Linked DNA regions of Homo sapiens. The protein of the gene in region 1 interacts with the protein of each later gene in a biochemical or structural test. Each region holds a gene or a part of one and is shown in the gene's direction. Other genes may lie near its edges.

Evidence for each region. The genes of interacting proteins can lie anywhere in the genome.
Region 2: the proteins of PHYH (region 1) and FKBP4 form a complex in vitro, tested with the Homo sapiens proteins (one study listed by BioGRID).

What each region holds. Positions count from the first base shown.
Region 1 is NC_000010.11:13,296,307-13,305,073, reverse strand, and holds the start of PHYH (phytanoyl-CoA dioxygenase, peroxisomal isoform a precursor), read left to right. Parts: upstream 1-5,009; 5' UTR 5,010-5,031; coding exon 5,032-5,106; intron 5,107-5,310; exon of another isoform or gene 5,311-5,654; intron 5,655-6,828; coding exon 6,829-6,887; intron 6,888-8,767. UniProt on the Homo sapiens protein: Catalyzes the 2-hydroxylation of not only racemic phytanoyl-CoA and the isomers of 3-methylhexadecanoyl-CoA, but also a variety of other mono-branched 3-methylacyl-CoA esters (with a chain length of at least seven carbon atoms) and straight-chain acyl-CoA esters (with a chain length longer than four carbon atoms).
Region 2 is NC_000012.12:2,797,156-2,804,969, forward strand, and holds part of FKBP4 (peptidyl-prolyl cis-trans isomerase FKBP4), read left to right. Parts: coding exon 1-127; intron 128-573; coding exon 574-716; intron 717-1,550; coding exon 1,551-1,671; intron 1,672-1,932; coding exon 1,933-2,089; intron 2,090-2,694; coding exon 2,695-2,785; intron 2,786-2,883; coding exon 2,884-2,967; intron 2,968-3,236; coding exon 3,237-3,422; intron 3,423-3,961; coding exon 3,962-4,201; intron 4,202-5,995; coding exon 5,996-6,103; 3' UTR 6,104-7,814. UniProt on the Homo sapiens protein: Immunophilin protein with PPIase and co-chaperone activities. Component of steroid receptors heterocomplexes through interaction with heat-shock protein 90 (HSP90).

The sequences.
Region 1 (8,767 bases):
ACATTTGCCTCCCGGGTTCAAGCGATTCTCCTGCCTCAGCCTCCTGAGTAGCTGGGACCACAGGCGCCCACCACCATGCCTGGCTAATTTTTTTATTTTTTTAGTAGAGACAGGGTTTCACCATTTTGGCCAGGCTGGTCTCAAACTCCTGACCTTGTGATCCACCCGCCTCAGCCTCCCAAAATGCTGGATTACAGGCATAAGCCACCACACCCAGCTAACTTTTTAAACTTTTTAAAATAAATTTTAGAGATAGGATCTCTATCACTCAGGCTGGAGTACAGTAGGGGATCATGGCTCACTGCAGCCTAGAACCCTGAGCTCAAGCAATCCTCCTGCCTCAGACTCTGGAGTAGCTAGGACTACACGTGCGCCACTGCACCCCGCTATTTCTTTTTAAAATTTTTTGTAGAGGCGAAGTCTTGCTATGTTGCCCAGGCTGGTCTCGAGCCTCTTGGTTCAAGCAATCCTCTGCCTCGACCTGCCAAAGTGCTGACATTACAGGCGGGAGCCACCATGCTTGGCTTCAACTATTTATTTATTTATTTAATTTATTATTTTGTTTTTGAAACACAGTCTTGCTCTGTCGCCCAGGCTGGAGTGCAGTGGCACAATATTGGCTCACTTCAACCTCCACCTCCTGGGCTCAAGCGATCCTCCCACATCAGCCTCTCAAGTGGCTGGTACTACAGGTGTGCCACGCTCAGCTAATTTTCTGGGGTTTTTGTTTGTTTGTTTGTTTTCTGGTTTTCGTTTTTGTGTTTGTTTCTTTGTTTGAGATGGAGTTTCACTCGTGTTGCCCAAGCTGGAGTGCAATGACGCTATCTCGGCTCACTGCAACCTCCACCTCCCGGGTTCAAGCGATTCTCCTGCCCCGGCCTCCTGAGTAGCTGGGATTACAGGCATGTGCCACCACGCCCAGCTAATTTTTTTTTTTTTTTTTTTGGTACTTTTAGTAGAGACGGGTTTTTAACATGTTAGCCAGACTGGTCTGGAGCTCCTGACCTCAGGTGATCCACCTGCCTCAGCCTCTCAAAGTGCTGGGATTACAGGCGTGACCCACTTCCCCTAGCCAGTTTGAACAATTTAATCCAAGATTTTAAAACTCAAACATTTTACTTAGCTGTTCAAATATGGCTATTATTTAACAAATCATTTAATTTATATATATGGGGAAAACTATTCCTTAGATCATTTTGAAAATTGTGTTTCAAAACTTGTCTGCAAGGTTACTTTCAATACGTAAGTAACCAAGCACATTACTGGAAGTGGGGGGAAGCTAATTTTGAAGTAATCTTCAAAAGGTCAACTTTAATAAGAAATGAATAAATGCCTAATACCAAAGGGGAAAGAACTTTTCATTCTTGTGATAATGTTTACATTCCATTAATGTTCTGCTTCAATTGTTCTAAAATATTTTTATTTTAATAACATAATTATTAAAGATGCCTACTTAGGGAATTTTCCAATAATCCAAATAGCTATTTGAAAGAAAACTAGTAACATTCATCAAATTACCTCTTTACCTACGGAGAAATTATTATGTTAATTCTCCGTGGGATCTTAAATGAAAAATGTTAAACCCAGCATCCCTCTAATTTTAAAAAGGCAGATAACAATTGTGAGCATTTAAGAATTTCCTTCATCTGTCGGTAAAAAGCATCAGTTTGGGCCGGGTGCGGTGGTTTACGCCTGTAATCCCAGCACTTTGGGAGGTTGAGGCGGGCGGATCACTTGAGGTCATGAGTTCGAGACCAGCCTGGCCAAAATGGTGAAACTGGCTCTACTAAAAATACAAAAAATTAGCTGAGCTTGATGGCGCGCCTGTAATCCCAGCTACTCAGGAGGCTGAGTCAGGAGAATCTCTTGAACCCGGAAGGCAGAGGTCGCAGTGAGCCGAGATCACGCCCTGCACTCCAGCCTGGGAAACAGAGTCAGACTCCGTCTCAAAAAAAAAAAAAAAAGAAAAGAAAAGCATAAATTTAAATACATCTAAATATCTAAGTACATCCTTGTATAAATGCCTTGGGGGAGAGATGGCAGGAATTTTCACATGGTTGTGAAATTAGGGCATTTTAAAGGAACAGTAAAAACACAGGTGTAAGTAGCTTCATCTCATTCGAATTTCTTTATTGGTCATGAAAACCAATCACCGTCAGCGCGGGTAAAGGTCCTGATCTTTTTTTTTTTTTATTTTTTCACCCAGGCTGGAGTGCAGTGGCACGACCTCGGCTCACTGCAAGCTCCGCCTCCCGGGTTCACGCCATTCTCCTGCCTCAGCCTCCCGAGCAGCTGGGACAACAGGCGACCGCCACCACCCTGCTAACTTTTTTGTATTTTTAGTAGAGACCGGGCTTCACCGTGTTAACCAAGATGGTCTCGATCTCCTGACCTCCTAATCTGCCTGCCTCGGCCTCCCAAAGTGCTGGGATTACAGGCGTGAGCCACCGCGCCCGGCCAAGGTCCGATTTTTTAATAAACAAGGGAAGGGTGATGAACTGAATTCACAGCTTCAGTTTTTTTTCTCCTGGCAGCAGTGCCCACATTTCACCAGGCGAGGGCAGAAAGGAGAGACCGCCTCGCCGGTCCACATCCAGAAAGGGGCGTTCCCAAGGGCAGAAAGAGGCCGACCCTCCACCTGCACCCGCCCCAGGCCCTGCGCTTGCGTTCAAACCGTGACAAACCGTAGAGTCCTTGAGAGCCCCGGGTTACTCCTACATGGTCATATTCCCGCGCGGGATGCCGAAGTGGGGCAGATGAGGTCCGGAGCTGCTGAGGGATCCCGGGTCCTTCTGTTGGTCTGAGACCCTGGGGCGGGCGGAATCCCGGAGAAAGCCGGAGGGACTCCCCAGTGGAAGCCTGGGAGCTGCCGTTCTCCTCCCTGCCTGTGCAAACAGGAAGGGGCTGGTGATGCTGGCTGCGGGCCTCCCTCCTGGACTGCGACATTGTCACCAAATTCTATAAAGACGTCATGCAGGAAGTGATAACGTGTGCTGCGACGTTCTGGAAGTAACTCGAAGCTAAAAAAGAACAAAAAATCAATGAAAAAATGAAACTAAAGAAACAATGAGATGCTATGTCAATATCCGTAGTTATGGAATGGAAAATAAATCTTACAAAGAGATGCTGGAGTTATCTAAGAAATTTACACCATACTGGCCTGTGTGCATCAGACTTTTCTGGAGGTCATTTATTTTATTCACTTTTTTTTTTTTTATGACCAACCGAACTTTCTAATATTTTGGGCTGGAGTCCCACTAAATGAAATACCCCTTTTGAATGGCACATATGACTTTTAGGGATGCATCTTAGCATTTTTATTTTTTTATTTTTATTTTCAAAACTTCATTGATGTTTTGGAGTTTTGTTTGTTTTTTGTTTTTGTGTTTTTTGGACATGGCCTCACTCTGTCGCCCAGGCTGGAGTGCAGAGGCACGATCTGGGCTCACTGCAACTTCAAACTCCCGGGCTCAGGTGATCCTCCTGCAGCAGGACGAGCCGCAGACAAAACTCAGACACCGGATTAAAGAAGGGCTGTATTAGGCCGGGAACTTCGGCAGACTTGCAACCGAGGTCCCTGAAAAAGAAATTCTTGGCCCTTTTAAGGGCTTGTAACTCTAAGGGTCTACGTGAAAGTTTAGTGAGAGATCGAGCAAGCGTGGGGAACATGACTGGGGGCTACAGGCAACAGCTAACAGAACAGAAAGTTTTGCAATGCTTCCTCATACAATGTCTGGAATTTTTATTTATTTAATTTATTGATTTATTTTTTATTTTTTTTGAGACGGAGTCTTGCTCTGTCGCCCAGGCTGGAGTGCGGTGGCGCCATCTCGCTCACTGCAAGGTCCGCCTCCTGGGTTTACACCGTTCTCCTGCCTCAGCCTCCTGAGTAGCTGGGACTACAGGCGCCCGCCACGACGCCCGGCTAATTTTTTTGTAGATCAGGTGTTCTCACTATGTTACCCAGGCTGCTTTCGATCTATAGCGATCCTGAGCTCAAGCGATCCTCCTGCCTCGGCCTCCCAAAGTGTTGGAGTTACGGGCGTGAGCCACCGCACCCGGCTAAAAACCTGTTTGTTTGTTTGTTTGTTTGTTTAGAGACGGAGTCTTGCCCTGTCACCCAGGCTGGAATGCAGTGGCGCCATCTCGCTGACTGCATCCTCCGCCTCCCGGTTGCAAGTGATTCTCTTGCCTCAGCCTCCCCAGTAGCTGGGATTACAGGCGTGCGCCACAACACTCAGCTAATTTTTGTATCTTTAGTAGAGACGGGTTTTCACCAAGTTGGCCAGGCTGGTCTCGAACTCCTGACCCCGTGATCCGCCTGCCTTGGCCTCCCAAAGTGCTGGGATTACAGGCGTGAGCCACCGCGCCCGGCAAACTTTTTGTTTAAATCGGAGATTTTATTCTTTCAGCTGTCAGTGGAAGGAGCAGTCACGTAGGGTTAAACAGATGGAAGCCATGACGTTAGGAGAGTGAGTGAGGTCCCAGCCCAGCCACTTGTCACTGTGTGACCTCGGCCTGGTCACTGGGCCCCCGAGCTTCGGTGCGGCAGGGAGGGTCCTGGTGATGGAACAGAAACAGGGTGCGGGGCAGGGGTAATGACTCACGCCTGTAGTCCCAGCACTTTGGGAGGTCGAGACGGGAGGCGGGGGGAGTTTGAGACCCACCTGGGCAACGTAGCGAGACCCCATCTCTACAAAAAATAAAAATTAGCCCAAGAGTTCAAGGCTGCAGTGAGCTATGATCGCGCACTGCACTCCAGCCTGGGCGACAGAGCAAGATCTTGTTTCTTTTTAAAAAGAAAGAAAATAAAGGACGGAAGGATCATGGTGTGGGGAGGACTTCAGCCCCGGGCGGTTGCCCGGCGCGCGGACTCTAGCGGACTAGGGCTCCCCAGCAGCCCGGCCCGCGAGCTGGCACCGCCCGGAATCCCGCTTACGTCCAGTCCGGGGCGGCGCCTGGAGGCGGAGCCGCCCGCTGGGCTAAATGGGGCAGAGGCCGGGAGGGGTGGGGGTTCCCCGCGCCGCAGCCATGGAGCAGCTTCGCGCCGCCGCCCGTCTGCAGATTGTTCTGGGCCACCTCGGCCGCCCCTCGGCCGGGGCTGTCGTATCCTTTGGGCTGCGCGGGGCTCGGGCTGGATCCGGCGCCGGCGCCGCCGCCTGAGTGGTGGCCCTGGTCCGGGTGGAGGCCTCGGGGTCGCACGCTTCGCAGCCCCAGCGCCTCCTCGCTCAGCGCCGCGTCCCCGCCTGGGTCGCGTCTCTTCCAGGAGCCGGGGAGCGGGGAAGAGGCTGCGTCCCCCGAGGACACGCGCGGCCGCCCTGGGGTCGGGGCAATTGCCGCGTTGCCCTGCCCTCCGGGATCCCTGGGGGCCTCTGCTCCTCTCTTTGTGGAGACGTCGTTTCACCGGCGGCGCGTGACCCCGGCAGCTGTCCAGAGACCCAGAGATGTCCAATCACAGGCGCACGGTGCACAGGCGCGCAGGGCTGCCTGGAACCGGCCCAGGCAGGCAGTGACCGGGACCTCTCCGGAGGGGAGAGGACGGTGCCCTCCCGGGCAGGAGCTGGCCAGGCAGGCGCTGCCCAGGGCGGCCTCCCTGCTGGACTACGGCATTGCCACTGAGTTATATAAAGACACTATTTGGGGAAGGACAGCGGGTGAGGACTGGCGCGGCGGCACACGCCTTGCCTGTTGTCTCGGCTCTTCTGGGGGCCAAGGCCAGGAGTCCAGGGTTACAGTGAGCCGTGATGGCCAGTGCGTTCCAAAAGAGAGAAACAGAGAGAAAGAAAGGATAACATGTTAATTGATGAGAGTGACATTCCGAAAGTAACCGATTAAGCTAAAGAAACAATGCAATTCTATGTCAACTCTCTGCAGTTACCGGATAGAAAGGAGATCTTTAAAAGGAATTTCTAGGGTTTTGCTTTTTTGGTTTTTTTTTTTTTTTGAAACAGGGCCTCACTCTGTCACCCAGGCTGGAGTGCAGTAGTGGTACGATCTCGGCTCACTCCTGGGCTCAAGAGATCCTTCCACCTCAGCCTCCTAAGTAGTTGGGACTACAGGGTTGCGCCACGATGCCAGGCGAATTTATGTTGTTGTTGTTATTGTTGTTATTATTATTATTATTATTATTATTATTATTATTATTATTATTTTTGAGACGGAGTCTTGCTCTGTGGTCAGGCTGGAGTGCAGTGCCGCACTCTGCAATGTCGGCCCACTGCAACCTCCGCCTCCCAGGTTCAAGCCATTCCCCTGCCTCAGCCTCCCAAGTGTAATTTGTATTATTATTATTAGTAGTAGTAGTAGTAGCAGTAGTAGTAGTAGTAGTAGTAGTAGTAGTAGTAGTAGTAGTAGTGGTGGTAGTTTTTTTTCTGAGATGGAGTCTCTCTCTGTTGCCCAGGCTGGAATGCAGTGGCCTGATCTCAGCTCACTGCAATCTCCACCTCCCAGGTTCAAGCAATTCTCCTGTCTTAGCCTCTCCAGTAGCTGGGATTACAAATGAACGCCACCACGCCTGGCTAATTTTTGTATTTTTAGTAGAGATGGGGTTTCACCATATTGGTCAGGCTGGTCTCGAAATCCCGACCTCAGGTGATCCATCCGCCTCGGCCTCCCAAAGTGCTAGGATTACAAACGTGAGCCACCGCCCCCGGCCTAATTTGTATTTTTAGTAGAGATGGGGTTTCACCATGTTGGCCAGGCTGGTCTCGAACTCCTGAGCTCAAGTAATCCTCCTGCCTCAGCCTCCCAAAGTGCTGGAATTACAGGCATGAGCCACCGTGCCTGGCCTTCTATATTTTACTTTATTTGCCTTAATTCACATCCTAGGTAGCTCATCCCACTTCAGGGACTATTTCCTCTGCCAGTTTCCATCCTCAACAATTCCAGTAAGTAGTTTGAGTTTTGATTTTGAAATATATTATGTATATAAAAGTTTCTTGAGTGGTAATGAAGATATACCACATAATATGTTACCTGATTAGAATTTTATTATACAAATCCTCTGTTTCCAGGACTTATTCTAATTAGTGCACTTGTGGAAAATTTTGGAGACCGACTAATTTTCTGTATGTATTTTAAGATTCAGAAAGAAGGAAAAATACCAGAAAATACATAATCCGACATTTATTTATTTATTTTTAATAGAGACGGGCCCTTCCTATGTTGCCCAGGCTGGTGTTGAACTCCTGGGCTAAAGCAATCCTCCTGCCTTGGCCTCCCAAAGTGCTGGGATTGCAGCCTGAGCCATCACACCAGCCTTATAATCTGACTTTTAAAAATTCAGTTAAACATCTCATTTAAATTAACTTGTGGCCGGGCACCGTGGCTCATGCCTGTAATCCCAGCACTTTGGGAGGCCAAGGCAGGTGGATCACTTGAGGTCAGGAGTTCGAGACCAGCCTGGCCAACATCTCTACAAACCCCACCTCTACAAAATGAAAAAATACAAAAATTAGCTGGGCATGGTGGTGTGCACCTATAATCCCAGCTACTCAGGAGGCTGAAGTGGGAGAATCGCTTGAACCTTGGAAGTCAAGGTTGCAGTGAGCTGAGATCACGCCACTGAACTCCAGCCTGGGTGATAGAGCCAGACTCCATCTCAAAAAACAAAACAAAACAAAACAAATTAGCTTGTATTTGGTTATATGGACATATTAGCTAGCATCTTTGGTTTATCTTAAATCACCTTTAAAGGGGAAGATCTTGACCTTCCTAAATATTCTCATACAACCACAATTCCGATCTTAAGGAATAGGTTGGGTGATTTGAGTTTATGGGTATGCTGTACATTTATTTGGATTTTGTTACTTTACCTTCTTGGAATGCATCAACTGGACAGTTAAAAATATACAATTTATTGAATTTGTTTCCCATCTGAAAAATCATATGTATTCATTACAGAAACATCAGAGAAATAGAAGGAATTTTAAAAAATCATCCCTAATTCCATTTCTAAAGGCAATCACTGTTAAAAATTGCTTTGGTGTATTTCTTTGCAGGCTTTTCTTTTTTTCATATAGTGTCTTGGTTTTACATAATTGTAATAATATTTTATTATAATAAGCATTGTCCATACTATTTTTTATTTTATTATATTTTATTATATTTTATTTTATTTTGAGACCGAGTCTGGCTCTGTCGCCCAGGCTGGAGTGCAGTGGTGCCATCTTGCTTCACTGCAAGCTCCGCCTCCCGGGTTCACGCCATTCTCCTGCCTCAGCCTCTCCAGTAGCTGGACTACAGGCGCCAGACACCATGCCGGGCTAATTTTTTGCATTTTTAGTAGAGGCGGGTTTCACCGTGTTAGCCAGGATGGTCCCGATCTGACCTCGTGATCCGCCCACCTCAGCCTCCCAAAGCTAGGATTACAGGCATGAGCCACTGTGCCCGCCATCCATACTATTATATGGCCTTAATTTTTAATGTCTGAGTCATATTCCACTGAGTGAACATAGTGTCACTAGTTAATTTTTCTTCCACTAATGCACTTTTTTTTTTTTTTTTTTTTCTGAGATGGAGCCTTGCTCTGTCACCCAGGCTGGAGTGCACTGGTGCAATCCTGGCTCACTGCAATCTCCACCCCCACAGGTTCTAGCGATTCTCCTGCCTCATCCTCTTGAGTAGCTGGGATTACAGGCACGCTAATTTTTGTATTTTTAGTAGAGATGGGGTTTCATCATGTGAGTCAGGCTGGTCTCGAACTCCCGACCTCAGGTGATCCACCTGCCTCAGCCTCCCAAAAAGCTGGGATTACAGGCATGAGCCA
Region 2 (7,814 bases), on another chromosome or scaffold:
ACAGGTACAGAGATGCCCATGATTGGGGACCGAGTCTTTGTCCACTACACTGGCTGGCTATTAGATGGCACAAAGTTTGACTCCAGTCTGGATCGCAAGGACAAATTCTCCTTTGACCTGGGAAAAGGTAGGCGTGGTCAGTGGGCTGGTAGGATAGGTTCGAGGTGGACACAAGCTGTCACAAGCAGAAACCATTTTCTCAGGACCAAGCTCAGGGAGGAATGGTTTATCACAGTCTGTTAACTCTTTCGGTCACTCTTTTTTTTTTTTTTCTACCGTTCTGTAACTATATTGATCTCTGTCTCCCCTTCTCCTCATCACCTCCCAACACCTTACTCCCCCTTCAAAGGTGGACTGTCTTGCATCTTAAACTCTTTTGTTCAGGGTCACGTGATCTTTTACAGTTCTTAGACCTGGTAGCACTTAATACAACCAGGTACCTCACCTTCTGGTCCCATTTCTAAAGGATGTCCAGCTTCCCCATGAGTGTGGTGCAGTAACTCTTCAGGAGCACTGTTTGAGCCCAGAATCAGAACCCTGCTAAGGCGGTCCTGTTTGCTTCTGTACCTGCAGGGGAGGTCATCAAGGCTTGGGACATTGCCATAGCCACCATGAAGGTGGGGGAGGTGTGCCACATCACCTGCAAACCAGAATATGCCTACGGTTCAGCAGGCAGTCCTCCAAAGATTCCCCCCAATGCCACGCTTGTATTTGAGGTGAGTGTTTGGTCACTGAGATCCAGGCTAAGAGCCAGGCCTTATCTCAGCCCAATGCCTGGCTGCCCTCCAGCCCTTCCTGCTTCTTGGAGACAATGTAGCCAAGGCTGAGGGTCTGGCCTTATGGGAGGAGAAATGCAGAGGGCTCTGCTGCTGCTAGTAATGGAAGTAATAGAAGCTTCGGGTGGGAAGAGGCAGGCACAAGCCCCTCTCCAGACTCAAAGCATGGTCAGGGTTAAGGCATCTTTATCTCCAGAGCGGTACCCAGAAGAATACTGAAAGGAGTCGGGATGTCAGAAACTATGTCCCGTTATAAATGGCAGTACAGAATATTGGTGCTCTAGAGACCAGAAGAGGGAGCAGTAGCTCCCCTGTGGGTCAAGGGCTGAGAAAAGGCTTCACTGAGGAGATAGAACTTGACATTGTTCAATCTGAAAATGGTTGAGCCAATCCGTGGGCCCTTGAATACTGAGAAACTGCTGAGAGATGTTGGGTAATCATTTCTAATACCTACCAGGTTGGGCTTATCAGGTAGTGTGAATTAGGATTATCTGGGACGCGTCCTGATATGTCCGTGTTAGTAGAGCAGGTAGCAAATAGATTGCTCTCCTCAGCTTAACTGAAATCTATGTAGTCTGCCCACCTCTACCAAAGTTGAGATTAGGGCAGCTCCCAAGAACTGAAAAAAAGTGCCACTCTACCCAACTCCTTGTGACTGCCCTTGTGGTCAGATCCGGCCTGGCAGTTAGTAGGGACTCTCTCGGATGAGAAAGATTGTGTTTCACTGCCCATGAGTTAGCATGGGAAGGAATTGTGTCACATCTTGTCCCACAGGTGGAGTTGTTTGAGTTTAAGGGAGAAGATCTGACGGAAGAGGAAGATGGCGGAATCATTCGCAGAATACAGACTCGCGGTGAAGGCTATGCTAAGCCCAATGAGGGTGCTATCGTGGAGGGTGAGACAGTACAGTCTGGGCTTTCAATTCTCATTCTGATATTTAGGCCTTGTGTGGCTTTGGGCAAGACACTTCCGTTCTCCGAGCCTATCTTCTTGTCCATAAAATGAGGGGTTGGACCATATTCTCTTCATATCACTCCAGATTTGAGAACACAGGAGAATCTTGGGATGATGGGGGTGATGCAGGGAGGCTGATGGCATCCTTCCTCAGTCACCTGCCCTCTTACAACTCTGGTACACTGCCTCTCTTTCATGCCAGTTGCACTGGAAGGGTACTACAAGGACAAGCTCTTTGACCAGCGGGAGCTCCGCTTTGAGATTGGCGAGGGGGAGAACCTGGATCTGCCTTATGGTCTGGAGAGGGCCATTCAGCGCATGGAGAAAGGAGAACATTCCATCGTGTACCTCAAGCCCAGGTGAGGGGTGGGCACTTCGTAGGGTAGGCAGGCAGGCAAACCAAGATCAAAGATATAAAATGAATTGTAGAACCAGCTGTTTGTATCCTTTTTAACTCTGGCCACACCAAACATACACCATTATGATATCCTCAGTGTACTTAGAAGTATGGCCCAATTGTCTACATCTCCTTGGATCTAAGCCCAGTCTTTTCAGTCATAGTTGCTACAGATTCTCTCCTCTGCCATCAAGATTTTCCTCTCCCATTAATTCATTTCAGTCATTACTGAAACAGCTACTACATGCCAGGCACTGCTGAAAATTCCTATAGGGCTTCAGAGACTAATAGAACATTGTTTCTGCCTTCTAATTCTAGCTCATTGTTTAGTGAGGTGCTATTTAAATTAGTAATCACACTGCTGCCTGGCTGTAAGTTATTAGAAGGGTATGAAGGATGCTGAGGGACCATCTGACAGTGTGAAGAGGCCAGGGAAGATTTGCCAAACATTTGAACCAAGTCTCAAGGGATGGGAAGGTACTTTCCAGGAAATGGACAGGAAGCCTTTTCAGCCTGGAGCAGGTTAAGTGTTGCCAAGATGATACATAGTGTTTTTCACCCCTCCAGCTATGCTTTTGGCAGTGTTGGGAAGGAAAAGTTCCAAATCCCACCAAATGCTGAGCTGAAATATGAATTACACCTCAAGAGTTTTGAAAAGGTAAGTTTGCTCAGGGTCTTCCCATCTAAAGTCAAGTTCCACCCTGTACGTGACTCTGGGGTAGCTGACAACTTTGTTTCTCTCCTGGGGTGTGGCAGGCCAAGGAGTCTTGGGAGATGAATTCAGAAGAGAAGCTGGAACAGAGCACCATAGTGAAAGAGCGGGGCACTGTGTACTTCAAGGTGAGCCAACAGTCATTGTCCTAAGGACACTCCCAGGAAGAGTTGCTCTGAGCCTCCCCTTCCCTTGGTGACTGAGATCATTTTCTGCCAAGAAGTGGACAGGTTGGCACCTGCCATCTTCACTTCATATATGTGAGCTTGCTGGCCTTGCCAGTGGGAAGGGTGGGAGCAGGAACCTCTTGTGGCCATGTGTCACTGATGTCTGCAGGGTATAAGAGCCTAGTACCACTGAAACTGTGCCAGGTGCCTGAGCCTCTCTCCCATTCCAGGAAGGTAAATACAAGCAAGCTTTACTACAGTATAAGAAGATCGTGTCTTGGCTGGAATATGAGTCTAGTTTTTCCAATGAGGAAGCACAGAAAGCACAGGCCCTTCGACTGGCCTCTCACCTCAACCTGGCCATGTGTCATCTGAAACTACAGGCCTTCTCTGCTGCCATTGAAAGCTGTAACAAGGTGAGGCCCCCTCAGAGGTCATGGAAGCAGCATTCACAGGCAGAGTTGGGTGAGCTGCCAGCATGTCTGAAACTTCCCCTTGGTGACTAGGGCAGGGATAGCAGGGTGGATCAGTGGGAGCTCTGAGGTTACAGACCAAAGGCACGGATGCAAGTATTCATAGCAAGAACCTTAGCTTTGGTGGGAAGCAGTTGGCAAGAAGGAGGAGGACACGGAATGGGAAGAATCACATAAAGAGTTTTCTTCCACCTTGGTTCTTAGCCTCTCCGCTTACCTACTTGCTTTATTCTAAAGTGAATGTTAATGTCTGAAGTCTTTATTTCATCCAAAGACCTGCTGTCTTCCCTCTCTGCCTGTTGGATTAAATGAGGTCCCTGGATTGTTCCATTTAATGCCTCAGGCCTTGTTCTTCCTGGGGTGCAGCCAGCCACTTGCATTCCTCCTCATCCTCCTGAGGGGTACCTTTGGAACCCAGTCTAGGCCAGATGAGCTACAAGCCCTGAGCTCCCACAATGTGGCTTCCTCTCTGCATTCTTTAGGCCCTAGAACTGGACAGCAACAACGAGAAGGGCCTCTTCCGCCGGGGAGAGGCCCACCTGGCCGTGAATGACTTTGAACTGGCACGGGCTGATTTCCAGAAGGTCCTGCAGCTCTACCCCAACAACAAAGCCGCCAAGACCCAGCTGGCTGTGTGCCAGCAGCGGATCCGAAGGCAGCTTGCCCGGGAGAAGAAGCTCTATGCCAATATGTTTGAGAGGCTGGCTGAGGAGGAGAACAAGGTGAGGATTGGGGTGGGGAACAGTTGGAATAGCATCCCTCCACTTAACCTGGCTACTGTGGGCTCTTTGTGCCTTTGGTTGTCTGTGCCAATCCCGGAAACCAGAAGTTGCCTTTTCCCTGGAGCATTAAGGAGCACGTGTTCCTGCTGTTGGGGCCAGTGTTCTGTGATCAGTGCGGGAAACCTACCCACAAGCCCCAGAAGTTGGGTTGGTTGCCCTGAGTGTAATTCCCGATTTATGTTTTCTTGTGGGCCAGGCGCCGTGGCTCACACCTGCAATCCCAGCACTTTGCAGAGCCAAAGTGGGAGGATCACTTGAACCCAGTAGGTAGAGACCTCAGTGACTTAGGATGGCACCACTGCACCCCAGCCTGAGTGACAAAATGAAACCCCATCTCAAAAAAAGAAAAGCGAGATGCTTTTTGTGTGTGATTAAATAAATAATACACTTAGTTAAATTCAAACTGTACCAAAGTATACAGTCAAGTCTGCCTCCCCCACCAGAAGCAGCTGCCCCTTCAGGGTCTTGGATGGTCCAGTGTATTGCGTCAAGGCACAGGCAGACGTTCCTGTTGCTTCCTCCCTTTCCCCTAACACAGGCAACGTGCTCCACCTATGATTTGGCGCATACTATGCTTTTTTCACGTAATAGTAGCTGGAGGCTTATTTTACATCCGTATTTAAAGAACTTTTACATTCTTTCTTAGGCTTACATTGTATTCCATTGTATGGATATGGCTTGTCTTAGTCAATCAGTCCCTTTTTAGTCTTCCAGTGGTTTTATTTTTTTTCTTTTTCTGAGACAGAGTTTCGTTCTTGTTGCCCAGGCTGGAGTGCAATGGCATGATCTTGGCTCACTGCAAACTCCACCTCCTGGGTTCAAGCGATTCTCCTGCCTCGGCCTCCCGAGTAGCTGGGATTACAGGCGCCCGCCACCACACCCGGCTAATTTTTGTATTTTTAGTACAGACGAAGTTTCATCATGTTGACCAGGCTCTCGAACTCCTGACTTTAGTGATCTGCCCACCCCTGCCTCCCAAAGTGGTGGGATTACAGGTGTGAGCCACCACACCCAGCCAGTCTTAAACAGTGTTCTAAACCAGCACTGTCCAGTAGAAATACAGTATCAACCACATGTAATTCAAAATTTTCTGGTAACCATGTTAAAAAGGTGAAAAACAAATGGAATTAAATTTTAGTTGCATTTGTGTATTTTTCAAACCATCTTCAAAATCCAATGTATATTTTGCACTAAAAACACGAGTTTGAACTAGCCACTTACAGTAGTGGCTACCATACGGGACAGTGCTGCTTAGAACAGCATTGCAGTGAATAACCTCATGAGTTCATAATTTGTACATATACAAGTGTTCTGTTTTGTTTTGTTTGAGACAGTGTCTCTTGCCCTGCCGCCCAGGCTGGAGTGCAGTGGCACAGTCTCAGTTCACTGTAACCTCTGCCTCCAGGGCTCAAGTGATCCTCTTGTCTCAGCCTCCCGAGTAGCTGGGACTACAGGTGCATGCCACCACGCCCAGGTAATTTTTGTAATTTTTGTTGAGATGAGGTTTCACCATGTTGCCCAGGCTGATCTCAAACTTCTGGGCTCAAGCAATCTGACCACCTCAGCCTCCCAAAGTGCTGGGATTACAGGCATAAGCCACCAGGCTTGGCCTATACAGGTATAGCTTTAGGACAGATGTAGGAGAATGGGTGTATCTGTGTAATTCTGCTGGAAATTAAGTGTGTGTTTTTTCACTTGGGAAGTCAGCCCGTTTGCTGTTCATCTTCCTTGCAGGCCAAGGCAGAGGCTTCCTCAGGAGACCATCCCACTGACACAGAGATGAAGGAGGAGCAGAAGAGCAACACGGCAGGGAGCCAGTCTCAGGTGGAGACAGAAGCATAGCCCCTCTCCACCAGCCCTACTCCTGCGGCTGCCTGCCCCCCAGTCTCCCCACTCCACCCTGTTAGTTTTGTAAAAACTGAAGAATTTTGAGTGAATTAGACCTTTATTTTTCTATCTGGTTGGATGGTGGCTTTAGGGGAAGGGGGAAAGGTGTAGGCTGGGGGATTGAGGTGGGGAATCATTTTAGCTGGTGTCAGCCCCTCTTCCCTTCCTCCATTGCACATGAACATATGTCCATCCATATATATTCATCAGAATGTTAATTTATTTTGCTCCCTCTGTTAGGTCCATTTTCTAAGGGTAGAAGAGGCAAGTGGTAGGGATGAGGTCTGATAAGAACCCAGGGTGGAGAGGGAGACTCCTGGGCAGCCGTTTTCCTCATCCTTTCCCTCTCCCAGTCCATTTCCAAATGTGGCCTCCATGTGGGTGCTAGGGACATGGGAAAAACCACTGCTATGCCATTTCTTCTCTCTGTTCCCTTCCTCACCCCCGACGGTGTGGCTGATGATGTCTTCTGGTGTCATGGTGACCACCCCCTGTTCCCTGTTCTGGTATTTCCCCTGTCAGTTTCCCCTCTCGGCCAGGTTGTGTCCCAAAATCCCCTCAGCCTCTTCTCTGCACGTTGCTGAAGGTCCAGGCTTGCCTCAAGTTCCATGCTTGAGCAATAAAGTGGAAACAATAAAACCTGGGTGTCAGACAACCCTTTCTGTTCAGCCTTGGAGTGGTGGGTATGGGTGGGTACATAATGGGTAGTAGCACAATCAAGGGGTCACCCACTTAGTTCCAGTTGAGCTTAAATAAGTGAGCATCTCATGTAGATGCCATAGTTGGGCAGGAAGCAGCCCCACCATGCATGGCTTCCTGAGCACTGCACAGGCTGCCGCTGGGATTTGTGTCTATGGCTTCGCCCAAGGTTCCCAGCACTCCCTCCCTCCAGCAACCTGGCAGTTTTAGTGCCTCTGGTTTTCTTCCCTGACACTTAGGAAGACGAAAGTATAAAGATCTAGAAGACTGGGACACCATGCATGTTCATTTTGAAGTTGGAATTGGTCTTCTGCCTACCTCTGATCTGGCAGAGGTATCTGCATTTTGGTTTGTTAACAAGGTAAAACTCCTGGTGTCACTGACCTCCTCCTGTCAGATAACTTACATGATTAAGGTTAAGAGTAAAGCAGAGTGTTCACGTCCAGCTTCCTTCTCAGCCTTAACAGGAAAAGGCTTGTGCTTTTTTTCTAACTATGCTTTGACCCTTAACTCCTATGGCATGATGGGGCCCTGGGAGAAGCCAGGCAGCACAAGCCAGTCATGCTGAGCTGCCTCCAGATAATCCTGGCTCCAGGCCAGAGCCCGTGTCTGCCCTCATCCCTCTCTCCTACTGTGAGCTCTCCAGTCCTTTCCCAACAGCGATGTGGTTGTCTGCTTAGCCACATGCCTGTATAGTTCCTTCCAGAAGAAATGTATAATGGTGGAAGATGTATTTCTGTGTGAAAATTTTCACCAAGTCATACAACACAGCTGATGCTGGAGCCAGGATTAAAATTGGGGTGTACAAGTCTCCCAGTGTGAGTATCCCTTGAGCCCAAGACACCAAGGATGCAGAGAACTGTGACTGTGCCACTGCACGCCAGCCTGGGCAAGAGAGTGAGACCATCTCTTTTTTAAAAAAGTCCCTGTGTAACTGCTTTCTTACTGGGCTTACCTCACATCACAG